Linked DNA regions of Homo sapiens. The protein of the gene in region 1 interacts with the protein of each later gene in a pairwise test. Each region holds a gene or a part of one and is shown in the gene's direction. Other genes may lie near its edges.

Region 1 (7,540 bases):
AACAGGTTTGTAGTCTTGGAGCAATAGGCCATACCATTCTAGGTTTGTGTGAGTGCACTCTGTGATGTTTACACCACGAAGAAACTGCCTAACAACACATTTCTCAGAATGCATCACCATTGTTAAATGATGCACGACTGTATTTGGATGGAAGCAAAGGAAGAGGTTTTTTTTGTTTTTTGTTTTTTGTGTTTTTTTTTTTTGTTTTTTTTTTTTTTGAGATGCAGTCTCACTCTGTCGCCAGGCTGGAGTGCAGTAGTGTGATCTCGGTGCACTGTAACCTCCGGCTCACTGCAACCTCCGCCTCTCGGGTTCAAGTGATTCTCCTGCCTCAGCCTCCCAGGTAGTTGGGACTATAGGAGCACACTGCCACACCCGGGTAATTTTTTGTATTTTAGTAGAGACAGGGTTTCACCGTGTTGCCCAGGCTGGTCTTGAACTCCTGAGCTCAGGCAGACCACCTGCCTCAGCCTCCCAAAGTGCTAGGATTACAGGCATGAGCCACTGCACCTGGCCAAGGGAGAGGTTTTTTAATTCAAAGCCTAATATTGGCCATTCTGTTTTCTTGTTAAAAAATTTACAGGCTCTGGATTGTAACATTCCAGTGTGTGAGTTAATAGTTTTAAAAATAAAAAGGATGTTTCTGTATTGGCTCCTTCTCTAAGGAGATGTAGAATATGCCAGAGATGGCAAAGTATAGATATCATCCATATTCATATTAACATTAGAAGAGATGTAAATGTTGCAAGTAAAAATTAGAGAGGTTAATCATATCTAGAAAGAAAAGCAAGAGATTGAATATTCTAATAAGCTTGGAATTTTAAATAAATTTAAAAAATAAAGTTTGCCTTAATTTGGGCCAGTAAATTAGAGTGGATTTTAGCTTGGGTTTCCTAAAAATAAAGCCTGAGATGAGGATTTAGAGCTTATGCTTAATTTGAGAGGTACAATCTCTAGGCAGTGAGAGTGGCAAGAAAGGAAAGTGATTCAAGGTGGGACGAGAAGCAATACAAAGTGATGCGTTTACCCTGCTGGGCTCATTTCACAGTGAGCTGACTGTTGGCTATTCAGCAGGTACAGCTACTCTACCACCCAAAATACCTCTGGACAGGCAGTACAAAGAAACTGCACCTCAACCCAGCCTGGAAGGGAGGATTTATCTGCCTGGCTTCCTGTCAGCTCCTGTTTCCCATTGGTCAAAGTTTGCCAGTGGGGATATAACCAACCCCACAATTCTAGGTTATAACATTCCACTCTTTCAGCAGCCACCTCGAAGCCAAATCTAACACCCAGTAATACAACTTTTCAACCAAGTTGAGAATTAGAAAATCCAGAACTCAGAGTACGCCTGTCTATACTGTGGACACCATGGAAGAAGAGCTCCTTCTTTGACAGGCAAAAGTGAAAGCAGGGGAGAGCAGTCAGCCATGGAGGTGGTAGCCGAGGTGGAGCATGCTGAGAGGGTCTGTGAGATGGCGGCACCACAGGAATCTGAGGAGCTGCAGAAAATGTTTCTGATAAGATGAATTAGATTTCAGAAATATGTTCTACCCTCTCAAGCCTTGTGTTTTATACTGGAATCCTAACCTCAGCCAATATTTCCCTGCCCTGAAAACTCAGTGCCATGACACAATCTCAGCTCACTGCAACTCCACCTCCTGCACTCAAGTGATTCTCCTGCTTCAGCCTTCCTAGTAGCTGGGATTACAGGTGCGCACCACCATGCCTGGCTAATTTTTGTATTTTTAATAGAGACGGGGTTTTGCCATGTTGGCCAGGATGGTCTCAAATGCCTGACGTCAAGTGATCCACCTGCCTCAGCCTCCCAAAGTGCTGGGATTATAGGCATGAGCCACCATGCCTGGAAGGCTAATATATATTTAGTTTTAGCAATAAAAATTCTTGAATTTTTTTCATTTTTTTTAAGAAAAGATCTCTTCATGCCTTTGTCTATTTTATATTCAAGTATTGTTAAATCTAATTACTCAGTGAATTACATGTTTCAAAACTACCTTTCTAGGCTATAGTTTGTTGTTTTCATCTTTTTGCATACCGTTGCCAAATGGAATGGATTCCATTTCCTAAGTCTTTACTCATTTCCCTCTGTACTTGCAAAACTCTATTTGGCTTCTCTGTCCTTCCTTTATGCCTAAAGGGACAGAAATACACCTGAGAAGAACAGTAATGGTAACTTCTATAGCCCAAAGAGTCCTTTTAGGAACTAAATTTATTTGTCCCCTCTTTTTATGTACAAAAGGTACAAAGTATAACAATGTGTATTTGATATTTCATGTTCATTGTTTATAAGATGTGATTTTAAAAACATGACGTAAGTAGTCCATGTTCTTTGTAGAAAAAATGGAAAATGCAGATGAAAATTAAGACACTTCCACACTTAGATATAAGCATTGTTAGCATTTTGATATATTTTTCTAGACCTATATATGTATTTTTATAAAAATAGTATCATACAGTTTATATTCTTTTATAGCCTGCCTTTTTTTTGGGAGGGCAACTTCATGACTTTATTTGTGGTACCTGTGCTTTATCTTGAAAATACCTTCTCCCCCTGTCCCAGACAGCGGGCTGGGAGGGGGCAGCAAAAAATAGAAGACTTCCCTCCCTATTGCACATGGACCCTATGTACAGGCCCACCCGGCTGAGGCCAGCAGGCCTCTTGGCACATTCTTGGATCCCTGCTCAGGAGGGGAGGGCTGACGGGGTGCTATCACATGTGAGATCGGGAACTCTGGGCGGCCACTTTGGTCCTGGGTACTGATATTTGCACTTCTTGGTCCTCAGTTCCTTCCTGGTCCTGTCTCTGGCCCTAGTCCCCTCTGTATAGCCTGCTTTTTATACTTGATGATTCAAATCATTTAAAATTTTTGCACAGTATTCTGGTAGTTGGTGATTCTATAATTTATCTTATTTCCTGCTATGAGACATGTAAGCTGTTTGTAGTTTTTTGTTCAATAGAAGTAAAAGTTCATTAGAGAGACATTATGGGTCTAAATAAGTACCTAAATTCACGAAGTTTTTAGATGCTTCTGTTACAAGTAGAGGGTCATGACTGCAAGTTGTCCAGGTTCTTGGCATTTTGAACAAATAATTGGACAAAACGCCCATCAAAGCAAAGAAAGAATGAAGCAACAAAAGAGCAAAAGCAGGGATTTATTGAAAGTGAAAGCACACTCCACAGTGTCGGAGCAGGTCCAAGCAGCGGCCCAAGGGACAGGATACAGAATCTTCTTGGGTCCAAATACCCACTAGAAGTTTCCCAATGGCCACTTCATGCTCACCTTATGTAAATGAAGTGGTATCCTGCAGTCAGTCTGATTGGTTGGAGAAAGCAGCCAACCAGAGGCTGAAGTGAAGTTACAAAGGTCACGCTCCTGTGCAAACATCTGATTGGTTGCAAAAAGCAACCAGTGAGAGGCTAGGGTGAAGTTACAAAGTTATACTTCTATGCAAACGAAGACTTGGCCTGCAATTAGTCTGATTGGTTGTGGACAGCAAATTTCCCATCTGCATGCAGAAAAGGTGAGGGGTTTGCAAAGGCAGTAGCCCCCGGTGCTTTTGTTACTTAGGTGTGGAAAGTTAGGGTTTTCCTTTGAATTTAGTTCTGGGAAATCGGAGTAAAACAGCCTTAGGTTCCCTGCCACCAGACCCTATTCTCTTGCTTTACTTCTTCCATTTTGTTTCAAAGCAGTCTACCCATCACTTTTTTGTATTTGTCATATTTACATTCCCCTCTACTACTGTGGATAGTCATGAGTGGACTGTTCTGACCTGTGCTCCTCAAAGTGTTGTCCAGTTTGCTACCAGACCTCTGCAGGATAAGAAGGTTGTGCCTGAATATAAACCAAGACATTGCTTAGTTCTTTGAGAGATTTTGGCTACTCCCCCACCCCACCCAAACGCTGAACTAAGGAGTATATTTTTAGTGACAATTGATTTTCATTCCACTGCAAAATTCTTATTTCATCATAGGTGGCTGTCAAGCACTTGCAGACTATCACATTATACCCAAGGTTTTTTTAAGTTCTGGGGCACATGTACAGGATGTGCAGGTTTGTTACATTGGTAAACGTGTGCCATGGGGATTTGCTGCACTTATCAACCCATGACCTAGGTATTAAGCCCAGCATGCATTAGTTATTTTTCCTGATGCTCTCCCTCCTCCTACCCCACCTAACCCCGACAGGCCCCCAGTTTGTGTTGTTCCGCTCCATGTGTCTATGTGTTCACGTTGTTCAGCTTCCACCTATAAGTGAGACATGCAGTGTTTGGTTTTCTGTTCCTGCGTCAGTTTCCTAAGGATAATGGCTTCCAGCTCCATCTGTGTCCCTGCAAAGGACATGATCTCATTCTTTTTATGGCTGCATAGTATTCCATGGGGTATATGTACCACATTTTCATTATACAGACTATCATTGATTGGCATTTGAGTTGATTCCATGTCTTTGCTATTATGAATAGTGCTTCTGCCCAAGTTTTTTTTTTTTTTTTTTTTTTGAGACAGAATCTTACTCTGTCAACCAGGCTGGAGTGCAGTGGCATGATCTCAGCTCACTGCAACTTCCGCCTCCTGAGTTCAAGTGATTCTCCTGCCTCAGCCTCCTAAGTAGCTGGGATTACAGGTGCCCAGCACCACGCCCAGCTAATTTTTGTATTTTTAGTAGAGATGGGGTTTCACCATGTTGGCCAGGCTGGTCTCGGACTCCTGACCTTGTGATCCACCCGCCTCAGCCTCCCAAAGTGCTGGGATTACAGGTGTGAGCCACTGTGCCTGGCCATGCCGAAGTTTTAATGGAAGTTAAATATAAGGAAAAACACCTGGGCCTGGCTCAGTTACTGTTAACAACTATTAATTACTTATTCTGAGAAGATGTGAGGGATACACATTGCTGCCCTCAAGGAGCTTGAAATCTAGTTGAAAACTATAATAGCACAAGAACAAAGACAACTCTATGAAATGGAAATAACATAGCATAATTACTATCTGCCTATAGGTTACTACTTGCCCATAGCAAAATGGTGATTTTGAATTTTTGAAAGAACACTTTCCTTTCAGAAATGCAGAACAAATGTATTCACTTAGCAAAAAGTTATGGAATAACTACTATATGCCAAGAATTGCACTAAATACTAGGCATACAAAGATGGTTAAGACATTCCTCATACCCTCATTTCACTTGGAAAGAGGCAGTCTTAGAACAGAAGTCAGAATTAGCTGTACCAAGAAGAGCAAAGGTCTTCTAGGCATAGGACAACAGCAAGTGCAAAGGAAAAAAAAAGTGGTTTATAAATTGTTTGTTACTATTTTGAGCTCTGGAAAAGGGATATAAAGCCAATAATTTCTCTGGAAATACTTTCAAGGACAATATGATACCTAAGGAATAATCAAAAGTAGAAAGTAGGTAAATTGAAAAGCTGTAGAAAAACAGCTATTATATAAAGTAGAAAGAAGAAAATAATATCATTTGAAAACATTAGCTAAAATTGGATGCACAATGTGTAAGACTGAAAATAAAGCTAGTTTCATGTTCAAAAGCCTATGTATGCATCATAAAGTAAAGCCGACTAGTATATAAGCAGGAAATATTAAAAGTGACATTGAAGGGTATCTCTTGCTTATTAAGGTTATGATTGCAAGTTTCTTTGGAGTATCTAATTAATTTGTTTTATGCTAAATGAAGTTCATTAATAATTTTCATCAGTTACTTTAATATAATTTTTAAACATCTTAAGTTTTGTAAAAATGGGCTATTGCTACAAAATGAGAAAAGTTCCCAAGGTGTATAGTGAATATTTGTGTTTTGCTTTTCTTATATAGAAACTGTTGAAGTTTGAAAATGAGTCATAAATATCTATAGAAAAGAGTAATATCCCATAGTAATGTAAGATGTGAAAAAAGAAAACAATTGATATTTTCCTTTTTTATATGAGGATTTTCAAAATGTTAACTAATTTTGTTATTAATCATTTGGCTTTCTTGAAAAGAGATGCACTTGCAAATTTGTTACAGCAGATCAAGGAAAGGAGTTTTGCAACAGATGTCTGAATCGGAAAACTGCCTTGCAGAAGTAAAATAATCCAATGAGTCATAACAATAGTATTGTTAATATGTGCTTTGGGTAGAGGGTTTTCAGTAGTATATTTTTTCCCTCCTGCTCTCGTCTTTTTTTGTGTTGTACCAAATAAAGAATCAAGAAATGAAGTAACTAAAATGTCTAATTCTGGAGGGTGTGCTCACAGTTCACCACATTTCATTTAGATCATTAACTTTTTAAAAGCTTCAGATAGGCCAAGCTGTATCAATGCTGTCCCATCAGATCTATCACATTCATTATTAATACAATATTGCCCCCATCAGCATTGGTCTTGCACTGTGTCTCTTTTCACTTGGAAAGTATCATTTGCAAGTTACCTGAAATGTTTTTCATTTATTGACCTCATGCTGGTATGTGATTACCTTTTCCACTTCACATTGTTATGAGCTATTTGTGTCACATTTTACTACATCGTAAGTTTAAATATTTTTAAGTAACTTTCTGCCAGGATAAAATATGTGCAAGGGTAGAAAATTTTTTCCTTGCTGATTATTTAAACAGATTTGCAAGCCATTGACACTAGCTTATTTATGAGAACACTAAGTATACTCTGGAGTATTTCTGGCTTTCTGTTTAGCTTATAGTTATGATTTTATTTTATGTTTCCACATATATTTCCTGTGGTTTTTTTCTTATTTATATACACTTATCTACTAAGTTGTTAGGTTTTATGTGTACTTTACTGATACATTTGGCTACAAAGTTGTTAGGTTTTCATGTGTACTTTACTGATACATTTGACTACTAAGTTATTAGGTTTTTATGTGTACTTTACTGATACATTTGGCTACTAAGTTGTTAGGTTTTAATGTGTTCTTTACTGGATTACTTTAGTTTAATGAAAGATACTGTTTCAGAATTCCAAACATCATTAAAGCATTTCAATCATGGGTTAGTAGGTAAGGGAGGTACAGGTTGATTGATTGATTGATTGAGTTTCCATTTGTTGCTGGTAATGAATTTTATTTCAATAATCAAATAAATTGAATCAAATAAATCAATAAAACTGAATATTTACTTTATACTTTCAAGTAGTATAAGAATGTGCAATTGATATAATAACCTTTCTCAAATGAATAATGAAGATTTTTGTTTGTTTTTTTTTTTGTAGGATGGAGTGGTTCTTGTTCATTGTAATGCAGGCGTTTCCAGGGCTGCTGCAATTGTAATAGGTTTCCTGATGAATTCTGAACAAACCTCATTTACCAGTGCTTTTTCTTTGGTGAAAAATGCAAGACCTTCCATATGTCCAAATTCTGGCTTCATGGAGCAGCTTCGTACATATCAAGAGGGCAAAGAAAGCAATAAGTGTGACAGAATACAGGAGAACAGTTCATGAGTTGCATTGTAGCAGACAATGGACAACTGTAGTTTCTGAATTGACTTCTATAGCCATCTTTTCCCTTTTTTGGAGAGTAGACTAGCAA
Region 2 (7,540 bases), on another chromosome or scaffold:
GCCAGAGTTCCAGACCCAGACCTCCCCTGGGGCCTGCTCCCACCCACACCGGGATCCCACCACATACACACTCATGTGTGAACACACGCCAGCATGTCCGAGATACACAAACATGCATGCATGTTTGCACATACGCAGGAAGCCACACACACCACTCAGACATAGGCACACACAGACTCACACACCCAGGCCTACAGTTACAGATGCACATGGAGGCACGCGTGTGCACACACACACACACACACACACACACACACACACACCACCTCACGGGGAGGAGGGTGTGGGGGCAGCAGGGCTGAGTCCTGCAGGACAGAAGGCCCAGCCCGGCCAGCCTACAGTCTCTGGCTGATGGTGGGTTTCAGCCAGATGAGGCGGGTTTATTTGTATGTCTGAGGAAGAGCCCTGTGAGAAGACCTGGGGGTGTCTAGGGAGGCCTGGGCAGGGAGAGCCCGGAGGAGGCTGGGGCAGCCAGCAGGGTCTGTGAGGGTGCGAGAAGCTGAGGAGCGAAAGGACACCTGTGAGGTGACACCACGTGGCCTGGGAAGGGGCGAGGCCCCTGGCAGAGAGCAGGCAGGAGGGGGCGAGGCCCCTGGCAGAGAGCAGGCAGGAGGGGGCGAGGCCTGCGTGGTTCGGGGAGGACCTGGGATGTGCGGACCCTCTGGGAAGCAGCGGGTGTAGGGCTGCAGTTCAGGAGGGAGGGCCTCAGGCAGCAGCACTGCAGGGGCCGTGATGTGGAGGTGACACACTCCAGCGCCCCTCCCCCGCTCCTTCATGCCAGCCGCTCAGCTCACCGGGGTCAGAGGTTGGGGTTAGGTCCAGGGCCGGTGTGTAGCTGAGGATGGGGGCTGTGGGGCAAGGCAGGGTGCGCCTGTGGGAGAGGTTCGTGGCTGTCTTGGCGCCTGGGAGCTGGTGCTGCTCACGGCGCACATGGTGAGGCCAGGCCACGCGGTGCTGGCTGAGAACCTGAGCTGCTCCGGCCCTGCAGGGGTCTGCGCTTGCGATGCAGAATGCCCAGCCATGCCCCATCAACGTCGTGCCAAGTCACAGCCCAGCACCACGCTGACCCTGTCTCCCACCCCAGGCCTGGTGAGTGGCTACTCCATGACCCCCCCGACCTTGAACATCACGGAGGAGTCACACGTCATCGACACCGGTGACAGCCTGTCCATCTCCTGCAGGTACTGGGTCCCTCTCCCACTGGCAGGCCAGAGAGGCTGCACAAGCCCAAGGCAGGAGGTGGTGGCTGTGGGCCCAGATGGCAGCCCCCTCCCAGGGCAGAGTCAGGGCAGAGTGGCCTCGGGGCCGTGTGGTCTCCCAGGCTGTGGGTGACTTCGGTCCTCCCCAGCCTCAACCACACACCCCCATCAGCATTTCTTTTTTTTTTTCTGAGATGGAGTCTCACTCTGTCACCCAGGCTGGAGTGCAGTGGTGCGATCTCGGCTCACTGCAAGCTCTGCCTCCCGGGTTCACGCCATTCTCCTGCCTCAGCCTCCCAAGTAGCTGGGACTACAGGTGCCCGCCACCACGCCCGGCTAATTTTTTGTATTTGTAGTAGAGACGGGGTTTCACCGTGTTAAGCAGGATGGTCTTGATCTCCTGACCTCGTAACCCACCCACCTCAGCCTCCCAAAGTGCTGGGATTACAGGCGTGAGCCACTGTGCCCAGCCCACCCCATCAGCATTTCATATGGGGCCTCATCACCCTGCACCCCACTCCTGACACCTCACACTGACCCCAGGCCACCTCCCAGGTCATCTGCATCCACTCCCAGCCACCCTGGGAGCACCCACTGGGGCCCCAGAGATGGGTACCTCCCCACCTTCCCAGCTGTGATCCAAGGCCTGTGCTTGGCCACAGGCCAGCCCCGGGAGCCTGGTAGAGGCCCGGGGGTCGGGGAGTGCCCTGCCCTGGGCACGGTCTGTAGTGTGCGCCCAAACCCTGGGCAGTTCCATGCTCTGGGTAAGACAAACCTGGTGAGGCTCGGCCTGAGGGAGGCTTCTCAGGGACAGTCCCCATGGGCTGCCCTGGGGCCCACCTGACCACTCCTGTCCTCTGCCAGGGGACAGCACCCCCTCGAGTGGGCTTGGCCAGGAGCTCAGGAGGCGCCAGCCACCGGAGACAAGGACAGCGAGGACACGGGGGTGGTGCGAGACTGCGAGGGCACAGACGCCAGGCCCTACTGCAAGGTGTTGCTGCTGCACGAGGTACATGCCAACGACACAGGCAGCTACGTCTGCTACTACAAGTACATCAAGGCACGCATCGAGGGCACCACGGCCGCCAGCTCCTACGTGTTCGTGAGAGGTGAGACTTGGAGGCGGGCCAGGCTGGAGCAGGGTCCCGGGCAGCTGGGGCCCACACCGCCCCCAGCCTGTGGACCCTGGGCTGGCAGGAGGAGAGAACGGGGCCCTACCTGCTCCAGCGGGTGGCTGGTTCAGGACCAGCACCACCCAGCCCCGTGGAGCCCTCCCCCAGCCTGGCCGCCACGTCCCTTCCCCAACAGCTTGCTCCCTCTCCATAGACTTTGAGCAGCCATTCATCAACAAGCCTGACACGCTCTTGGTCAACAGGAAGGACGCCATGTGGGTGCCCTGTCTGGTGTCCATCCCCGGCCTCAATGTCACGCTGCGCTCGGTACGGCCCCACCCCAACCCCAGCATCCGACCCTCCCATCCCACCCCTGGGAAAGGCGGCCGCCTGTCTGGCCAGGAGCAAGGGGCAGCTGGGCAATGATGGTGGCCTTGTCCCTCCAGCAAAGCTCGGTGCTGTGGCCAGACGGGCAGGAGGTGGTGTGGGATGACCGGCGGGGCATGCTCGTGTCCACGCCACTGCTGCACGATGCCCTGTACCTGCAGTGCGAGACCACCTGGGGAGACCAGGACTTCCTTTCCAACCCCTTCCTGGTGCACATCACAGGTAACAGGGCTGTGCCCCGTTCCCAGTAACGGGGCTGTCACTGCCTCACTGGCCTCAGTGGGTGTCGTCCTGTGAGGGCGTGGGAGTCACTGTGTGCGTGTCAACAGGCAACGAGCTCTATGACATCCAGCTGTTGCCCAGGAAGTCGCTGGAGCTGCTGGTAGGGGAGAAGCTGGTCCTGAACTGCACCGTGTGGGCTGAGTTTAACTCAGGTGTCACCTTTGACTGGGACTACCCAGGGAAGCAGGTGAGGTCAGCAGCGCTGCCAGGCTGTCCTGTCCCCAGGAGTCCCTGTGACTGTACAGCACACACTGGGCCTCCGCGTGGAGGATGTGTGGGCCCAGGCCTGCCCCAGGGGCCCCGGTCTGAGTGGCAAGTGTTCCACCCAAAGAAAACTCAGGGCCTGGGTCCAGGGCTTCCGGAGCCACCGCTGGCTGGGCTGGGAGGTGTGCCTTCGGTGGGGTAGCTGTGCAGGAGCCCGCCTGCTGACGCGGGGCTTCCCTGGGTGCGGGCAGGCAGAGCGGGGTAAGTGGGTGCCCGAGCGACGCTCCCAGCAGACCCACACAGAACTCTCCAGCATCCTGACCATCCACAACGTCAGCCAGCACGACCTGGGCTCGTATGTGTGCAAGGCCAACAACGGCATCCAGCGATTTCGGGAGAGCACCGAGGTCATTGTGCATGGTATGGCCTGGGAAACCAGGGTCCTTGTGCCCTGTGGGCCTGGGCCCAGAGCTCACGGTGCCCTTGAGCACTCAGGAGTCCAGCCAGAGGGAAGGGAGGGCCACGAGCAGAGGAGCTGCCCAGCTCCTGCACCGGGCGGCATGGCCAGCCCCAGTCTGCGGATGTCCGGCTGCCGGGGCTGCAGGGGCCGTGGGGGGAGTCCCTGGTCAGTCCACGACGGGTCAGTCCTGGATTTACAGTGACTTCTCCTGTCCGGCAGAAAATCCCTTCATCAGCGTCGAGTGGCTCAAAGGACCCATCCTGGAGGCCACGGCAGGAGACGAGCTGGTGAAGCTGCCCGTGAAGCTGGCAGCGTACCCCCCGCCCGAGTTCCAGTGGTAACAGCCCTGGCTCCCCACCGACCCCGCCGATACCCTTCCAAGTCCAGGGGCAAAACAGACCATAGGGGAAGACGGGCAGCGTCCTCCCCGTCAGGACCTGCACACGGAGACCAGGCATGGCGGGGGCCTCTCTCAGGAGACCCCCCAAGGAACCCGCCCATAATGTGATATTTCAGATGGAAGGTCTGTCTGTTCCTGCCACACTGTGAAAGGTTTCAGTACCAGCCTTCTGTTACATGTGGGTGTGGTGGGCACAGCGAGGGGCTTTTCCTAACTGCCTCCTGACCGCTGGGCCCCTCTCTGCCCTGCAGAATCTCCAGGGCCTGCCCTGCAGCAATGGCTTAGCGTTCCCTATGCCTCCTTTTGCGAGGCTGCCTCTCCCAGGACCCTTCTGTCCAGAAATTTGGAGATGCCACAGGGAATTGACAGATTGCCTGGGCTGGGCCTGTGCTGCACGGCAGCGAGCGAGAGAGCTTCCAGGAGGCCGACAAGCTGCTGGAGTCCCCGCAGATCCCCGATCTGCAAGCGTGTGCTGCGGCCCAGAGAAGGGAGGCCTCAGGGGTGGCCCTGTCTCCGCTGGCTACTCCCTGCAGGCTCTGGGGGGGCATGGCACCCCTCACAAACACGTCCTCAGGCCGTCTGAGTCATCCACATGGCTCACCCACAGTCAGTCACACTTTGAGTCCCCATTGCATAGACGAGGAAGCAGAGGCTAGGAAAGGGTATTCCTAACTGATCGCCAATTCCCCAGGAGGGGTCTCTGCACTGAGCTAGCCCAAGAGCCTCCTTCTCTTCAGCCTGGGCACCTCCCTCCTGGCAGGGCAACTTTTCCTGGAGCTGGGCAAGCAGAGGCCCAGGGTTTCCTCAGCCAGGGCCCCTTGCACTGGCTGGGGGCTCGTCTCTCCTGGGATGGAAGGCCCAGGGTGTCCTGGCCCTGAGCCCAGTGTGACCCTCCCACTGAGGACACAGACTTCGGTGTCCATCCAAGGCACCTGGTCAGTGCCAAGGCCCTTGGGGCAGAGTCCTGAGGGCACTGGCAGATCCTGGAGCCTCACTCACGGGTACAGCTCCTGGAGACCCCTGGGCCCTGTCCCCTGCCCTCCAAGGCCACCATTACTGAGCCTGCTCTGGGCAGGTGGCAGCTCTGTTGCGTCCAGGGTCTACCCAGTCCTCAGGCAGCTGCCTCTCAGAACAGCTTTCCACTGGCTCACTCCTGCCACATCTGGCTCTCTTCCTATGGCAGCCACCCACCCTTCCTGTGGTGCCCACCCTTCCTATGGCACCAGCACATGACGATGGCGAGCACTGACTGGGTGGACGGTCTAGCAAACACACAGATGGGCTGGTCCTTGGCTTCCGAAGCACCCGCAGTGTGTCCAGCACGCTGCTGTCACTGTCCGGGTTAAACCTCACGACAGCTGCAAGGTGCATGTCATCTCCATTGAGGCAATGAAGGAGTCTCAGATCCAGCAAGTGGCAGACTCAGGACCAGAGCCATGCAGACAGCACCACCTCAGTTCCGCCCCTGCCCTGCCCTGCCTCACTCTGCGACCCCAGGCCAGGCACTCCCCCCGGGCCCCTGCTGTGATGTCCAAGTTGAGAATGGGCCCCTGCCTCCCCTTCTCTGTTGGTCTCTGCCCGAGGGCTGTGCCTCTCCCAGGACACAGTGGTGTATCTCTGGCCTGCCACACCCAGCACCAGGGGCAGGCACCTGTCCAAAGGAGGAGCATCTCCATACAGAGTCCAGGCCACAGAGACAGGTGCCTGCAGGGGCCCCAGCACACCCTCTGGGGCTGAGGCATCTGCTTCCTCACGTGTGCAGCAGACATGTAGGCATCTGGGCGCAACTCTGCAGGAGGCAGCACTGCCCTCGTGGGGCTCCCAGCCCAGGGGGACGATGGGCAAACAGACACAGCAAGGCAGGGGCAGGCCACAGCATAGGACAGTCAGGAAGGCTGCACGCCCCCACCCAAATGAAGGAGGCAGGGAACCCTGCAGATTCCTGGCTACAGAAATGAGTGTCCCAGCGAGGCAGGCAGTGAGAGCCAGGCCTGGGGGCGGGGTGTGGGCAGCAAGAAGCCCACATGTCTGCAGGGGCCACGCACATGTCAAGGAGCTAGACTGTGCTCGCAGGGACTGCACCTCCACTCCTTCAGGTGTCTAAGAAAGAGGACGGGGTCTCCAGGCCGTGCCCAGCTGGGTGGAGGAACCAGGTGTGTGGGACCCTCCTGGGCTGGGCTGGGCAAGCCTGGCTGAAGAAGGCTGTCTGCAGCCACAGGCAGGGAGAGAAGGCGGCTGCCCCAGCAGTGACATGGTCATCTCACTACTTGTGGAGAGTTCAGAGGCTTTGGGGCAAGGCAGGAGGTGCTACTGCAGACCTCAGTGACCAATGCCCGAGCCGGCCGCCTGACACGGTTGTCACACCTGGCAGATACGGCCTGGAGACCATCTCCAGGGACTTAGACCATCCCCTCGCAGACCAGTGTTCCCCGTCCTACCCTGCACTCCTGCCAGCCCCTCCCTCCTCCCAACTGTATTTGGGGTGGGGGTGCCAGCATGAGGTTGGGGCTGTGGTGGGATCTGTATGGGCCCTGACCTCCCTTCCCTGGCCAGGTACAAGGATGGAAAGGCACTGTCCGGGCGCCACAGTCCACATGCCCTGGTGCTCAAGGAGGTGACAGAGGCCAGCACAGGCACCTACACCCTCGCCCTGTGGAACTCCGCTGCTGGCCTGAGGCGCAACATCAGCCTGGAGCTGGTGGTGAATGGTAGGTCAGGGACGGGAGAGCGCACGGGTGGGCGGCCTGGCATTGGAGGCCAGCTGACCGGCCATCTGTGTGCCCACAGTGCCCCCCCAGATACATGAGAAGGAGGCCTCCTCCCCCAGCATCTACTCGCGTCACAGCCGCCAGGCCCTCACCTGCACGGCCTACGGGGTGCCCCTGCCTCTCAGCATCCAGTGGCACTGGCGGCCCTGGACACCCTGCAAGATGTTTGCCCAGCGTAGTCTGTGAGTACAGCTCCAGCCTCAGGTCCCCTGCACAGCCACAGCCCCCAGCCTCAGCCATGAGGAACCTCCTTTACAGCACCCCTCACTGCCCAGGTCTTCCCTGTACCCCTTCTCAGGGCCCTGCTCTGAACTTGAACCCTACCTTCAGCTATAGCCAATCCCTGGCCTCACCTCGCCTGAGTGAGGCTCAGAGCCTCCCTTGCACCCATCCTCCATCAGCTGGCCAAGCTGGACACAGGATGGGTCTGGCCCCTGCCCACCTCCCTCAAGAGCGAAGACCTCTGGACACGTAATTGCATCATCTGGAGGGAGAAGGAAGCACATGTCTCTGAGCACCCAGCAGGACACCTCCAGCGGGGTGGGGACCTGGGGGGGTGTCACCTGAGCCCCTGGGATGGTTGCACTGAGCCCCACGGCACACCATGTGTGCTCATGGGCCTCAGCTCATCTGTGCACCACTCACATCCCCTTAGAGACAGGGAAATAGGGTCAGAGAAGGGAGGCGGCTTTCCCAGGGGCACAGCTGTAAGCAACAGGACCCAGCCA
Region 3 (7,540 bases), about 150 Mb from region 1:
GGGAGGTTATTTCTGACTTGGGACCAACTCAAAGGAGACCTGGTGTGGTTGTCAATACCCCAGTGGGACCTGTCTTCCAGTGTCACCCACCCCGGAGCCACACCTGCCACTCTCGCTGATCCTCTCTGTGGTGACCTCTGCCCTCGTGGCCGCCCTGGTCCTGGCTTTCTCCGGCATCATGATTGGTGAGTGCACAGAGCCCCAGGGACTCCCAAGGGGGCAGGAAGGCAGGACTGAATAGTGTCTCAGGCTGTGCCACAGGTGCCAAGGTGTCACTTCGTTATGCTAGTCCCTGGAATTGGGTGGGGTGGTGATTAGGGCAGCCCAGGCCAAGCCAAAACGGAAGCTCCCAACCTTCCCCCCACCAGAGCAGCTGCAGTTCCCTGAGGAGCCCCTGATTCTGCACCTCAGCCCCGTGTGTATCCTCCTGGCTGATCAGGGGGTGGGGAGCTCCTTCAGTGTCCATCACGATGGTGAAAGCTCGCCCCCACCCCTAGACGTCACTTCTAGCTCCCACATGCTTCCACCGGCGCAGCTCCTGTTTGGCTCCCACCCTATGTAATGCACTAGCCCACTCTTCCCCAAACCAGCCCTCCACCACCCTCCAGGCAGAGAGATAGGAAAATCGGTTTCTGAGTATATTTCTGTTCAGCCTGTGAGCCAAGGTGAGCTGACCTGCAGGTCACAGAGAACTCAGTGTGGTCCCAACCAGCTCTTACTGCTGGCAGAGACATGCCCAGGACAGATGGGCAGAGGCTTGAAAAGGGCAGAGGGAAAGGCTCTTGAGAGCCCTCGCAGGCCAGGCCCCTGCAGGCAAAGGGATCTGCCGGTAGAAGGGAGATGGCAGCACACACTGTGTCCCCATATGGTGCCATCCCTCAAAGGGACAGGATAATAGGAGCTAACACTTGTTGCATGGTTACTACGTGCTCGGCAATTTACACATTTCAATTCATTCGATCCTCAGGTAACCCTAATCTGATCACGGTCGGTCCATTGCATAGAGGAGGGAACTGAGCACATAGCGGGTGACTCATTTGCCCTGGCCCATGTGTTGGGGGGCTGGGCTTTACACACAGAATCTACCCACTGAATCACAATTTTGTTCTGGCTTCCATGGAGTTTGCCTTCCAGAACATCCTCACATGTAGGAGTGATAATGGTCACTCACATTGGTAGAGCTCTTTAGGATTTTTCAAAACCATTTTATGTTGGTGAATTCATTTCATTGACAACCCTAGAGGGTGGGGAGTGGCAGTGGTTAGGGAAACAGGGCAGGAGTTACCATCCCTGCCTACAGAGAGGGAAACTGCAGTCCAAAGAGGTCCTGTGACCTGGTCCTCATGGCTCAGCTTGTAAGTAACAAGAGGCGGAATTAGAGCACAGATCCCCAGACACCAATTCAGAGATCTTTTCATGATGTGGCTCTTCTCCAACTCTGTGGCTTGGCAGTTCTCCAACTATAGGAAACACAACTGACCAAGATCCCAGCTGCACCCTCAAATCCACTGCTGTGATTGCACTGAAGCTGCCCTACCCAATGGCTGAGCACAGCAGAAATACTAAGGCAGGCCAATTCCTGGGAGTCATGGGACTCCTCTGATGACTGACTTTGGCTCCAGAACCCCTTAGGGCCTTGCTGAAACTTCCTTAGGCTCCATGGCACCCAGGGTGCTTCCACCCAACCTTCCCTCCCTCCCTCGTTCACGTGGGGTTATACTTGCAACACAGTCTGCTGGTTCACCCAGCCTTCCCTGGCTCCCTCCCCATTTCCTCTCATGGGCATTTCTTCTAATAAAATCTGCAGACCATATTGGGTCTAATCCCATCTCCAGTCTGCTTCTTGGAGGAACCAGACTAACATGACTCTGCCCTATATAATACAAATAATTATTTTCCATATATCTGATTTTTAGCTTTGCATTTACTTTAAATCATGCTTCAATTAAAGACACACCTTCTTTAATCATTTTATTAGTATTTCTAAGTATGATGGAAAGGTTCAGAGCTCAGGGGAGGATATGGAGATCCAGGGAGGCTTCCTGTAGGAAGTGGCCTGTGTAGTGCTTCAAGGGCCAGGCTGCCAGGCCATGTTGCAGCTGACCACCCACCTGCAGTGTACCGCCGGAAGCACCAGGAGCTGCAAGCCATGCAGATGGAGCTGCAGAGCCCTGAGTACAAGCTGAGCAAGCTCCGCACCTCGACCATCATGACCGACTACAACCCCAACTACTGCTTTGCTGGCAAGACCTCCTCCATCAGTGACCTGAAGGAGGTGCCGCGGAAAAACATCACCCTCATTCGGTGAGCGCCCTGCTGCCGTCCTGGGAGGAGAGGGGTGCAGTGTAGGGGCTGAATGTTATCACAGCACCGCAGACTCCTCTAGCCACAAAAGGCCGGCAGAGCCCTCCCTATGGGCACCCCTAGCCCTCCTAGGAGGACAAGCCTTGACATTCAGGGCCATGTATGTTGGCTTACATTAACTCCCATAGTTTATGGAGTTTATACAATGAGAGGAGAACCAGGGCTCTCCTCAAAATTCATTCAGATGTGCTCTCTCCAAGTCTACCTGGCTCCCCTTCCCTCCAGGGGAGCAGGGGAGCAAAGGGCCCCTCCTCTGAGCATCTAGAGCAACTGCGCCTTCCTCTGTCACTCACTGGAAATACTCCCCAGCCAGTACCCACAGTGATCTGTCTCTCCCCAAGGAGCATGAACCTCCCCCGGGGAAAAGCCATGGCTTATGCACCCCTGTGTCCCTGGCAAATATCAGAGACTCAATAACTACTGATTGAATGAATAAACATTTGACCATTGTCATGAGTCCCTGGTTGGAATCCTTCTTACCAGTTTTCAGGTGAAGAACTGGAAGCCCGAGATTGCATAGCAAAGCCATGTTGAGGGTATTACTCCTGAGTGTGTATGTTACCCCCGCCTCTCGTGTTTGTCCACTAAATGTGACGCCCAGGCTCAGGACCCCCAGCTGCCTCATTATTGTGGCCTGTTTGACTCTGTCTCCTCTTGTCTTCTCCTTTGCACAGGGGTCTGGGCCATGGCGCCTTTGGGGAGGTGTATGAAGGCCAGGTGTCCGGAATGCCCAACGACCCAAGCCCCCTGCAAGTGGCTGTGAAGGTAAGAAGTGGCTCACTCTTGAGCCTGCCCTTGGCTTGCGGACTCTGTAGGCTGCAGTTCTCAGCTCACAGCCTCCTCCTCCTCCCCACCCTCCCCTTCTCTGCCCAGACGCTGCCTGAAGTGTGCTCTGAACAGGACGAACTGGATTTCCTCATGGAAGCCCTGATCATCAGGTAAAGCCACAGAGAGACACCCTCACCCCAACTCCCCTCTGCCCCCAAAGAACCTGGAGAGGTTTCTAACAGATCGATATCTCCAAGGGAAATCGTGTTGTCCCTAGCATGTCCCCTTTTCTCCAGTAGGAGACTCCCAAACATTCTAGACACTTCTTACCAGAATGGAACAACCCTTGATGGTTGTTTCAGAAACAAAGTCTGTGTGGCCTAATAATCCCACCGATGTCACTGTCTGCAACCAGTATCCCTGCTGTTATCCACTGGTTCTTCTTCCCTCACTTTTTCTTAAGAAATGGAGCATGCTAGACTTTGACAGTACAAGATATAATCTCCCTCCAAGACCCTTCACCAATCCCAGTAATTGTGCTTCTAATATGATGGGAGGCCACCCCATCCTAGGCTCCCATCAGCAGGGCTGAGTCTCAGCTGGCTGCACCTTTTGACTTGAGGCTCCAAGATCTGGATTTAAGCTGAGAGTCTCAGTGCCTATGGCTCCTGAGGGCGTCCGCTGTGACAGCAGATCCCCTCAAGGAGGGGGCAGATATTTGACCTCAAGATCAGGTGGGGGCTCATGGCCCCCTGTCACACTGGGAAGACTCTGAACGTCCTGACAGGTGGGGGCAGACTGGGATGTCCCCTTGGTGGAAGTGGCAGGGGTAACAAGGCCAGGCAGTGTGAGTGATATGGCTGTGAGGTCTGGAACCACAGGAGGACACACAAAATAACATTTATTTTCTGATGATACATATAATTCCTGATTATGAATAAAACTTGGCAAGTATGAGATTATATTGAAGAAGACCCATATCACTCAAATCTCACTACTTGGTGGTAACTAACCATTATTATGTTGGTGTCTAATCACCCAGTCTTTCAACACTTGGGGGGCTGTGTGTACATGTGTGTATGCACACACATGCATGTTGGCCCATGTGGAATTCCTAGGCCCTACTGCCCTGTGTGTCCTAAAGGGATCATGTTAACAAGAAAACCCAAGTCTTGGTCCCTCCCATGAGGAATCCACGGGAAACTGATAGACTCGTGAGGCCATCCCCTTTTGCTGGCTCTGTTTCACACGCTGTCACTTGGCAAGTCTCACCCAGTCTCTCTTGGAAGCAGTTGTTTTGCTTCACCTTCTGCCTGAGGCCTTCCTGGGAGAAATCGACCATGAATTCTAGCACCCAGTCCACGCACCAGTATCTGAGAAAGACACTCTCCTGCCCCCTGAGACACTTCCTCACCCAAGTGCCTGAGCAACATCCTCACAGCTCCAGCCACTCTCCTGCAAATGGAACTCCTGTGGAGCCTGCTGTGGTTCTTCCCACCTGCTCACCAGCAAGATTCTGGGTTTAGGCTCAGCCCGGGACCCCTGCTGCCCATGTTTACAGAATGCCTTTATACATTGTAGCTGCTGAAAATGTAACTTTGTATCCTGTTCCTCCCAGTTTAAGATTTGCCCAGACTCAGCTCAGTTAATTTTGGTTACATCCCTCTCTGCTCTGCAGCAAATTCAACCACCAGAACATTGTTCGCTGCATTGGGGTGAGCCTGCAATCCCTGCCCCGGTTCATCCTGCTGGAGCTCATGGCGGGGGGAGACCTCAAGTCCTTCCTCCGAGAGACCCGCCCTCGCCCGGTGAGTGAGAACCAGTCTTTGCTGCAGTTGTTGTGCCAAGGACAGGAGCAAGGATGGAAGGAGCAAGAGTGGGCAGCCTGGGTAGCAAGTTCCTCGATGGAACCCAGGGTGTCAACTTTAGGCTTGGACAGGGGGGTGACTGACTGGCTGGAAGAGAATGGACAGAAGATAGAGGTAGATGATGGCTGAGCCCCAGCCCCAAGGAGCTTGTGCAAGGCTCCTGCAATGCATTTGTATTAGTCCATTCTTGCATTTATATAAGAACTACCTGACTCTGAGTAATTTACAAAGAAAAGAGATTTAAGTGGCTCATAGTTCTGCAGGCTGTACAGGAAGCATGGTTGGGGAGGCCTCAGGAAACTTACAATCATTGCAGAAGGTGAAGGGGAAGGAGGCACGTCTTACATGGCAGGAGCAGAATGAAGGGGGAAGCGCTGTACACTTTTAAACAACCAGGTCTCATGAGAACTCACTCACTATCATGAGAATAGCAAGGGGGAAATCCACCCATGGTCCAATCACCTCCCACCAGGCCCCTCCTCCAACACTAGGGATTACAATTCAACGTAAGATTTGGGCAGGGACACAAATCCAAACCATATCCACATTCTATAGCCTGGATCCATTCTCATGGCCTGCTGACTCTGGAAAACCAAACTAGAGACAAACACAGAGGAGAACTTTCATGACAGCCATGTAACTACTCAAGCAACTGACCTGGGCAGGTCACTCTGCAGCTACTCATTCAGAGCCCACAGTCCTCACGTCTCAAGTAGGGATAATAATACCTGGACATTCCAACCGTATATTTAGGAAGGTGCTACACACATCTTATGGTTAACAGAGCTTGGGAAGTGAAGATACCCAGGGTGGACCCAGGAATCCCAAGCTCCAGCTCCAACTTGGCCATTAGACACCCGTGTAGTTTAGGGCAGTCTTAAACCTTTAACCTGGGTATCCTCACAGGTGAGATCTGAGGATTGGACTAGAACATCTCAAAGGTGGTTCTAAATTATTAAACATAGCACCCTGGGCAGACCCAGAGCCCAGCTGCCCATGCTTGGGTCTGCAGGTCTTCAGCAGGCCCCGGATACCAGGAACTGGAGCTGAGCAGGCCCCAAGGTTAGGATCCAGGCTTCCTCAACGAACCACTGTACTATGGGGATCACAAGGAAGACTTGCACAGTAAAAGCAGCGGCCACCCTCCCGCTCCCAGGAAAGGAGGGAAGACTGACAGCCAGTGGTTCCAGAAAGCCCAACCTGACCACACTGCTCAAAGGGACTCAAAGTGGTGATGGAAGCCCTGCAAGGTCATAGCTATTCTGATCTCCACCTTCAGTCAGGATCCATGTAAAATACCTTCACCTTAGCCACTGGGTGACGCATCTCAGTATCTAAGAAGAATACTGTCTTACCCCTTGAGAAGAGGAATTTGTGTGCACCTGAGCATACCTGGCAGGAGGACTGGGCAGGGAGCAGGGAGATAAAGACTACACCTGTCTGTCTCATAAGAGCCCTCATCAGCTGGCATCCTCCTCAGACCTTTCACATTTCTCAACACCACCCTATGAACAGACAATGCAGGTCTCTCCCCAATTCTATGGATGAGAAAACGGTGGCCCAGAGAGATTACGGGACTTGCCATGGCCACACAGGAAGTGGAAGAGCTGGGACTAGAACTCAGGCCTTGTGACTCTTGATTCAGTGCCCTCTCCAACTTACTGCTTATCCAGTGGTCCCCTCTGGGAAGCTGTAAACTATCAAGATGAGGTTGTGTCCTTAGAGCCAACACTGCCAGGCATCCAGGCATCTCTGCCATGGTACAGGCATCAGATTCACTGGCTTTCCCACCACCACCTAGGAAGGCAGAGCCTTTGGCCCTCATGCCCTGAGATTCTCAGCAGCACTGCTGTCAGTGGGGGACACGTGGCATCACACTTTGGGAAGAGGCACAGCCCTGGTTCTCCCACTGGACCTTCCTGAGGCTTAAGGAGAGAAAGTTGTATGCATGCAAAGGAGAGGGACTTTGCAAAGGGAGTCTGGGAGCCCAGCACTTGGCAAGTTCAAGGACTTCGGGGGCAGGAGATGGCAGGAGTGAGGAGTGGTGTGTCTCTATCTCTCCCTCTCTCCCCTCCCCCTTTCTCTCTCCCTCTCTCAAAGACAAAGGCATCTCTCTCCTTTGATGATGAAAGATGATTCCAATATTATTACAAAGAACATAGTCCAGCAAGGAAAGGCAGATCATTCTCTCTCTCTCACTACCCCCACCCCAGAGTGCCACCCTCGGAGAGTCAGAACAGGAGCCTGTCCCCAAGTTCTACCCTCTAACAGCAGGCACTACCTGAGGGACCCCCAGAACGGGGAGGGGGCCTGTCCTTGGAAGAGCCACTTCTCAGGGCCAGAGTCCCACCCTCACCCAATCTGCTCTTTCAACCCTTGGCCCCGCTTTTCCTCTGTGTGGCTCTCGTTGCCAACCAGGCACACCCAGGCAGCACCCCAGTCATGGTCCTCCCCGCCTCCCATACACCCACCAGGCCCAGGTGAGCTGTCCTTCCTGGGATCCTTGGCCGATTTCAAATGTCCAATTGTGGCCCTCTAGA
Region 4 (7,540 bases), on another chromosome or scaffold:
GAAGCCAACCTCGGCCTCATTGAAGAAATTTCAGGGTATCTAAAAATCCGCCGATCCTACGCTCTGGTGTCACTTTCCTTCTTCCGGAAGTTACGTCTGATTCGAGGAGAGACCTTGGAAATTGGGTACGTGGGCCTGATTGTGTGTATGGCCTGAGTGCTAACTAGGAAGTTCGTGTATTAGAACAACTTAAGGATTTTTTTGGCCAGGTGTGGTGGCTGATGCCTGTAATCCCAGCATTTTAGGAGGCCAACGTGGGTGAATCACTTGAGGCGGGGAGTTCAAGACCAGCCTGGCCAACATGGTGAAACCCTGTCTCTACTAAAAGTACAAAAATTAGCCAAGTGTGATAGTGCATGCCTGTAATCCCAGCTACTTGGGAGGCTGAGGCAGGAGAATAGCTTGAACCTGGGAGGCAGAGGTTGCAGTGAGCCAAGATCACACTACTGCACTCCAGCCTGGGTGACAGAGTGAGACTCTGTCCAAAAAAAAAAAAAGAAAAGAAAAGGAAAAACTTAAGGATTTTTTAAAAATCAAATAAAAACAAATAAAAAACAAATAAAAGTATATCTGGCAAAACCTCGGGAAAAAAGAACTTGGAATGTGCCTAAAGGTCCATCCAGCCAAAAATTGTAAAAGCTTTTTTATAGTCATTCTTGAGAAACAAAAGTGGGAGCAGCCCAACCTTGGTGCCCATCCTCCAAGGGTACAGGCTGGAATTTTTGCTAAATTTGCTGTTTGGGCTGCATTGTGAGTAGAGTTTGGCATGCATAAAATGAACATTCCCTCTTAGTCCCGGTTGTCCATCCTAATTTCTGGGATGGACTCCATCTCAGTATATTCCAGTATATTCCAACCTTCTCCTTGAGGTCCTAGAAACTCTATTAGCAAAACAGCAGAAACTCAAACTAGCTAGATCAAGATTGACTCATAGGCAGGAGGTCTGTGGAAGACCCAGATTCTTTCCATCTTTGTGCTCCTCATGGTCACAAGATGGCTGCCTCAGCCCCAGCCTCACATCTGTAGAACAGACAGCAAATGGGGAAAGGGACAAAAGGACATGTTAATCAACATGAGCTGGTAAGTGACTTGAGAAGGTGGTCTAAACAATATAGTTTAGACTATATTATCTGTACTCCAGCCTAGGCACCAGAGTGAGAATCCATCTCAATAAAACAAACAAACAAACAAACAAAAACCTTCAATGGCTCCTTTCTCCTTATTAAGGATGGCCACATGTTCTTGGTCTTGGTCTGGCATGCAATATACTAGAGGGTCTGGTCCATTGCAACTACAGCTATTTCCTGTCACCTATTGGCCAAAACAGGCTACTTTGCTCTTCCCTGAACTCAGCTTAGGTGCCTCTGTGTTATCAGTATTTCCCCTATTTGCAGAAATTGGTTTCTGCAAAACCTATTCCTCAGTCCATCACAGACTCACCACCCCTCTTCAAGACTGAGCTGAGCCTCCTTCCTGGCCATGAAAACTTCCTCAACTTCCTCTGTTATCCACATTCAACAAATATGTGTTGAGTATGTGCCAAGCAAGTGGAGAGGATTAGGCACGTAGCACTGAACAAGATCAACTCCGAGCATGGCCACACCATCTTGGAGTTGTAGAAGACCAGCCGTTGAATGACTAGATGTGTGTGTTTTTTCCATAGGAACTACTCCTTCTATGCCTTGGACAACCAGAACCTAAGGCAGCTCTGGGACTGGAGCAAACACAACCTCACCATCACTCAGGGGAAACTCTTCTTCCACTATAACCCCAAACTCTGCTTGTCAGAAATCCACAAGATGGAAGAAGTTTCAGGAACCAAGGGGCGCCAGGAGAGAAACGACATTGCCCTGAAGACCAATGGGGACCAGGCATCCTGTAAGTCACTGGTCCCCAACCTTTTTGGCATGAGGGACCGGTGTAGTGGAAGATGGTTTTTCCATGGACTGGTGGTGGGTGGGGATGGTTTCAGCATGATTCAAGTGCATTACATTTACTATGCACTTTATTCCTATTATGATTACATTGTAATATATAATGAAAGAATTGTACAACTCACCATCATGTAGAATCAATGGGAACCCTGAGCTTGTGTTCCTGCAACTAGATGGTCCCAGCTGGGGGTGATGGGAGACAGTGACAGATCATCAGGCATTAGATTTTCATAAGGAGTGTGCAGTCTAGGTACCTCATGTACACAGTTCACAATAGGGTTCACACCCCTGTGAGAATCTAATGCCGCCGCTAATCTGACAGGAGGCAGAACTCAGGTGGTCATGCAAGCGATGGGGAGTGACTGTAAATACAGATGAAGCTTCACTTGCTCACCTATCACTCACCTCCTGCTGTACAGCCCTGTTCGTAACAGGCCATGGATAAGTACTGGTCTGTGGCCCAGGGGCTGGGGACCCCTGCTGTAAGTGGTCCACAAACCAGATAATGTGGCTGTCCTCTCTCATCCATCACAGTCACCCCCAGGGGGTATTACTTCCCTCTAACAACTCACTGTGTGATAGGCTTTCTTACTGAGGGCAGATTCTGCACATTTATTAATATTATCACTATGCTTACTGTGCCATATAGTACCGGATACGGGATGAAGTCATACAAGCACTGAATGAATGGATGAATGAATGATGGATGAATGGATGACACCTTCTTATATGTGTATCAGGCTGATGCTGAAGACTTCAAAGTTGAGTAAAATACCTATGTCAGTCTGCATCTCCTGGGAAGTGACTGCCAAGTTGAAGTTAGGAGTGCAGAAAATGTATTGAGGGTAATATTCATAAAATATGAAACAGAGGAAGAGCTTCTTTTTTTTTTTTTTTTTTTTTTGGGACAGAGTCTTGCTCTGTCACCCAGGGCTGGAGTGCAGTGGCGTGATCTTGCCTCACTGCAACCTCCTTCCCCTGGGTTCAGGTAATTATCTCGCCTCAGCCTCCAGAATAGCTGGGATTACAGGCACATGCCACCAAGCCCGGCTAATTTTTTTTTTTGTATTTTTAGTAGAGACAGGGTTTTGCCATGTTGGCCAGGGTGGTCTTGAACTCCTGACCTCAGGTGATCCTCCCGCCTCGGCCTCCCAAAGTGCTGAGATTACAGGTGTGAGTCACCACGCTCAGCCATGAAGAGCCTTTTGACAATAGCGTGTGTCTGACCTCTGTGAACAGAGAGCGGGAAGGAGGGAGGATAGGGCTGGGAGAGTCTCAGATGGTGATGCATCCCTGAGTCTTGGCCAAACCCAGAAAGAGATCAAGGCCACGGTTGTCTGCAGGGAAGTTCTGCATTGCAAAGGGACGGCCAGGCATCTACCAAGCTCAGTCATAGGTGGGGGCTGTCCAGGGAGAGTCAGGTTTTGGCTGGAATGCTACAGCAGGTCCTGCAGTTTCTGCAGCTGCAGGCTGCCTGCTGACTGCACTTCCCTGACAGATTCTAAACAGTGAGCTGCCAAGGGCTTCTGGGATACCTTCATGGGGAGTTAGTTACTTATGTCAAAATGTAGTGCAAGGGCTGGGCATGGTGGCTCACGCCTGGAATCCCAGCACTCTGGGAGGCCGAGGCAGGCAGATCACTTGAGGTCAGGAGTTCGAGACCAGCCTGGCCAATGTGGTGAAACTCCATCTCTACTAAAAAAAAAAAATACAAAAACTAGCTGGACGTGGTGGTGGGTGCCTGTAATCCCAGCTACTTGAGAGGCTGAGGCATGAGAATTGCTTAAACCCGGTAGGTGGACTGCACTCCAGCCTTGGTGACAGAGCAAGACTGTCTCAAAAAAAATGTAGTGCAAGGAGAGAGAGCGAGGTTGGGGTGAGGTTTAGGAGAGGGTTTGTCTTCTAGGCAGAGAGAATTACTTAGATGCGTCTCTCCGATGTCTAATGATCTGCAGGGTCTCTAAACTCACTTGGCATAGGTTTATTTGCACTGGAGTTGCACCTCCTTCCAGGTCAGTCTTACAAGTCCATATGCGAGACAACGTTGTGTCAGGACAAACATCACCCTTGGAAATCCCTTCCTCCAATAACTATTGGCCGGTTGTCCTTCTTGCGCGGGTACAGACTGCGCTTATTCAGTTGACTGTCTGGCTGAGTCAAGTCATTGGCTTACGTGAGTGTGAGTGGCCAAGTTGCAAAACTGGCTCTTACCTTTGAATCTTCCCCCATTCATACTCAGCCAGGCACATGGGGAGGAGACCCTTAAGGGAATAGCAGCGTCACCTCTGCCTTCTCACGGTCCCTCCAGGAAGTGTGGGGGTCCCAGGCTTTGGTCTGAAACTACACTGAAATAGCTCATTTTTGCCTTTTGTTTTAACTTTTCCAGGTGAAAATGAGTTACTTAAATTTTCTTACATTCGGACATCTTTTGACAAGATCTTGCTGAGATGGGAGCCGTACTGGCCCCCCGACTTCCGAGACCTCTTGGGGTTCATGCTGTTCTACAAAGAGGCGTAAGTAGAAGAGTTAGAGAGACGCTGAGGAGGCGAGGGCTGGCTGGCTCTGTGCTTGCTACGTTTGTGCTCCAATCTGCCCCTCTTGGGTTCCTGTCTATCTCCCTCCTCCTCCTGGAATAAATATCTTAGGTTCCTTTTTACAATCTCACCAGTCGATGGCATGCAAAGTCAATAGTGTCTGCTTTTATCAAATGCCTAAAATGGAAGCAGACAGCTTTCCCATAGAAGCCCGGACTGGCCAGTTTCCTGGGGCAATATTCTATTTTGCCTTGCCTGTGTATGTCTCATCAGACATCCTTAGTAGTCAGGAGCTCAGTCTACTAAGTGGATGTTATCAAATGTATTGCTTATCTATTTTTCTTTTTTATCCCCAATTTTTTTTTTTTTTTTGAGACAGAGTCTTGCTCTGTTGCCCAGGGTACAGTGCAGTGGCAGATCTTGGCTCACTGCAACCTCTGCCTCCCGGGTTCAAGCAGTTCTCCTGCCTCAGTCTCTTGAGTAGCTGAGATTATGGGCATACACCATCACACGTAGCTAATTTGTGTATTTTTGATAGAGACGGGTTTTGCCATGTTGGCCAGGCTGGTCTCAAACTCCTGACCTCAGGTGATCTGCCCACCTTGGCCTCCCAAAGTGCTGGGATTACAGGCATGAGCCACCGCACCTGACCAGTAGTAATATTAATAATAGTTCTAGCCCTCAAGATTTACCTTGTGCCTTGCTGAGCACTGACACACAGTCTAATCTTATCAGTAACTTGTGAGGGAGCTCCTGCTATTACTATTATTACAGATTGAGTATCCCTAATCTGAAAATCTGAAATTTATAATGCTCCAAAATCCAAAGCTTTTTGTGGGCCGACTTGATACTCAAAGGAGATGCTTATTGGAGCATTTCAGATTTCAGATTTTTAGATTAGAGATGCTGAACCAGTACAATGCAAATTAACTAGTAAAATGCAAATATTTCAAAACCCCAAAATATCCAAAATCCAAAACACTTCTGGTCCCAAGCATTTATTTATTTATTTATTTATTTATGTTTTTGAAACAGAGTCTCCCTTTGTCGCCCAGGCTGGAGTGCAGTGGTGCGATCTCAGCTGATGCTACCTCTGCCTCCCGGGTTCAAGCAATTCTCCTGCCTCAACCTCCTGAATAGCTGGGATTACAAGCATCTGCCACCATGCCCAGATAATTTTTGTATTTTTAGTAGAGACGGGGTTTCACCATGTTGGCCAGGCTGGTCTCGAACTCCTGACTTCTGGTGATCCGCCATTCTCGGCCTCCCAAAGTGCTGGGATTACAGGCGTGAGCCACTGCACTTGGCCAAGTCTCAAGTGTTTTGAATAAGGGATGCCCAAGCTGTGTTTTTTCATTGAGATGTCAGGGTTGACAGTTCCTTTCTCTTTGGCTGTTCCCGAGTTATTTTTTCTTGTGGCATTAGATTGTTGGGTGAGTAACATGTGACCCTATGGGATGTAACTTCCCAGGCCTCATCTGCACGGCACTCAGTGTGACGGTCTTGTAAGGGTAACTGCCTTCTGCTGTTTTGTCTTGAAAGCCCTTATCAGAATGTGACGGAGTTCGACGGGCAGGATGCGTGTGGTTCCAACAGTTGGACGGTGGTAGACATTGACCCACCCCTGAGGTCCAACGACCCCAAATCACAGAACCACCCAGGGTGGCTGATGCGGGGTCTCAAGCCCTGGACCCAGTATGCCATCTTTGTGAAGACCCTGGTCACCTTTTCGGATGAACGCCGGACCTATGGGGCCAAGAGTGACATCATTTATGTCCAGACAGATGCCACCAGTGAGTGTGTCTTGGGAATGTGAATTCGTATGTGAATCAGACCTCTTGCTTTTAATAGGCTGATGCAGTGAGGTTGTATAAAATGCTCCTTGATATGGTTATTGGCTTTTTTTTTTTTTTTAGACAGGGTCTTACTTTGTCACCCAGGCTAGAGTGCAATGCAGTGGGGTGATCATGGCTCACTGCAGCCTCAAACTCCTGGGCTCAAGCAATCCTTCTGCCTCAGCCTCCTAAGTAGAAGGAACTACCAGAGTATACCACCATGTGTGGCTTTTTTTTTTTTTTTTCTTTGAGATGAAGTCTCACTCTGTCACCCGGACTGGAGTGCAATGGCATGATCTCGGCTCACTGCAACCTCCGCCTCCCAGGTTCAAGTAATTCTCCCACCTCAGCCTCCTGAGTAGCTGGGACTACAGGCATGCACCACTATACCCAGCTAATTTTTGTATTTCTTGTAGAGACAGAACGTTGCTGTGTTACCCAGGCTGGTCTTGAACCCCTGGCCTCAAGTGATCCTCCTGCCTCGGCCTCCCAAAGTCCTGGGATTAGAAGTGTGAGCCACCTTGCCCAGTCAGTTATTGGCTTTTAAAGGAGCTGGGTATTGAGGCTTATAGTTTCAGACGAGGCAGTAGCAACAAGCCACTTGATGGGAATATTTATATTTTTCATCCTATTATGAAAAATTGTCAAATATTCACAACACAGAACAAAACCCCATAGTTAGCCGCCTCCCAGCTTCAGCCTTTGGTCATTTTTGTTTCATCTCGACGCCTGTTCCCTCTTCCCACTTGTTACTTCTTTTTGTTTTGTTGTTTGTTTTGGCCTGGAGTATTTCACAGCAATTTAATTATGTTTGTTTGTTTGAGATGGAGTCTCACTCTGTCACCCAGGCTGGAGTGCAGTGGCGCCATCTGGACTCACTGCAACCTCCACCTCCCAGGTTCAAGTGATTCTCCTGCCTCAGCCTCCCAAGTTGCTGGGATTACAGCACACTTGGCTAATTTTTGTTTTGTTTTGTTTTGTTTTTTGAGACAGAGTCTCACTCTGTCACTGAGGCTGGAGTGCAGTGGTGTGATCTCAGCTCACTGTAACCTCCCCGTCCCAGTTCAAGTGATTCTCCTGCCTCAGTCTCCCAAGTAGCTGCAACTACAGGCGTGCCACCACGCCCAGCTAATTTTTGTATTTTTAGTAGAGATGGGATTTCACCATGTTGGCCAGGATGGTCTCAATCTCTTGACCTGCAATCTGCCCACCTTGGCCTCCCAAAGTGCTGGGATTA

What was found.
Region 2: the proteins of DUSP19 (region 1) and FLT4 interact in a two-hybrid assay, tested with the Homo sapiens proteins (one study listed by BioGRID and IntAct).
Region 3: the proteins of DUSP19 (region 1) and ALK interact in a two-hybrid assay, tested with the Homo sapiens proteins (one study listed by BioGRID and IntAct).
Region 4: the proteins of DUSP19 (region 1) and INSR interact in a two-hybrid assay, tested with the Homo sapiens proteins (one study listed by BioGRID and IntAct).

The regions. Positions count from the first base shown.
Region 1 is NC_000002.12:183,088,207-183,095,746, forward strand, and holds part of DUSP19 (dual specificity protein phosphatase 19), read left to right. Parts: intron 1-7,224; coding exon 7,225-7,452; 3' UTR 7,453-7,540.
Region 2 is NC_000005.10:180,625,323-180,632,862, reverse strand, and holds part of FLT4 (vascular endothelial growth factor receptor 3 isoform 1 precursor), read left to right. Parts: intron 1-988; coding exon of another isoform or gene 989-1,084; coding exon 1,085-1,181; intron 1,182-2,063; coding exon 2,064-2,308; intron 2,309-2,525; coding exon 2,526-2,638; intron 2,639-2,757; coding exon 2,758-2,920; intron 2,921-3,027; coding exon 3,028-3,167; intron 3,168-3,435; coding exon 3,436-3,604; intron 3,605-3,863; coding exon 3,864-3,981; intron 3,982-6,597; coding exon 6,598-6,752; intron 6,753-6,831; coding exon 6,832-6,994; intron 6,995-7,540. UniProt on the Homo sapiens protein: Tyrosine-protein kinase that acts as a cell-surface receptor for VEGFC and VEGFD, and plays an essential role in adult lymphangiogenesis and in the development of the vascular network and the cardiovascular system during embryonic development.
Region 3 is NC_000002.12:29,218,106-29,225,645, reverse strand, and holds part of ALK (ALK tyrosine kinase receptor isoform 1 precursor), read left to right. Parts: intron 1-80; coding exon 81-185; intron 186-1,822; exon of another isoform or gene 1,823-2,117; coding exon 2,118-2,304; intron 2,305-3,038; coding exon 3,039-3,129; intron 3,130-3,237; coding exon 3,238-3,302; intron 3,303-4,810; coding exon 4,811-4,940; intron 4,941-7,540. UniProt on the Homo sapiens protein: Neuronal receptor tyrosine kinase that is essentially and transiently expressed in specific regions of the central and peripheral nervous systems and plays an important role in the genesis and differentiation of the nervous system.
Region 4 is NC_000019.10:7,164,875-7,172,414, reverse strand, and holds part of INSR (insulin receptor isoform Long preproprotein), read left to right. Parts: coding exon 1-125; intron 126-1,663; coding exon 1,664-1,878; intron 1,879-4,320; coding exon 4,321-4,447; intron 4,448-6,010; coding exon 6,011-6,261; intron 6,262-7,540. UniProt on the Homo sapiens protein: Receptor tyrosine kinase which mediates the pleiotropic actions of insulin.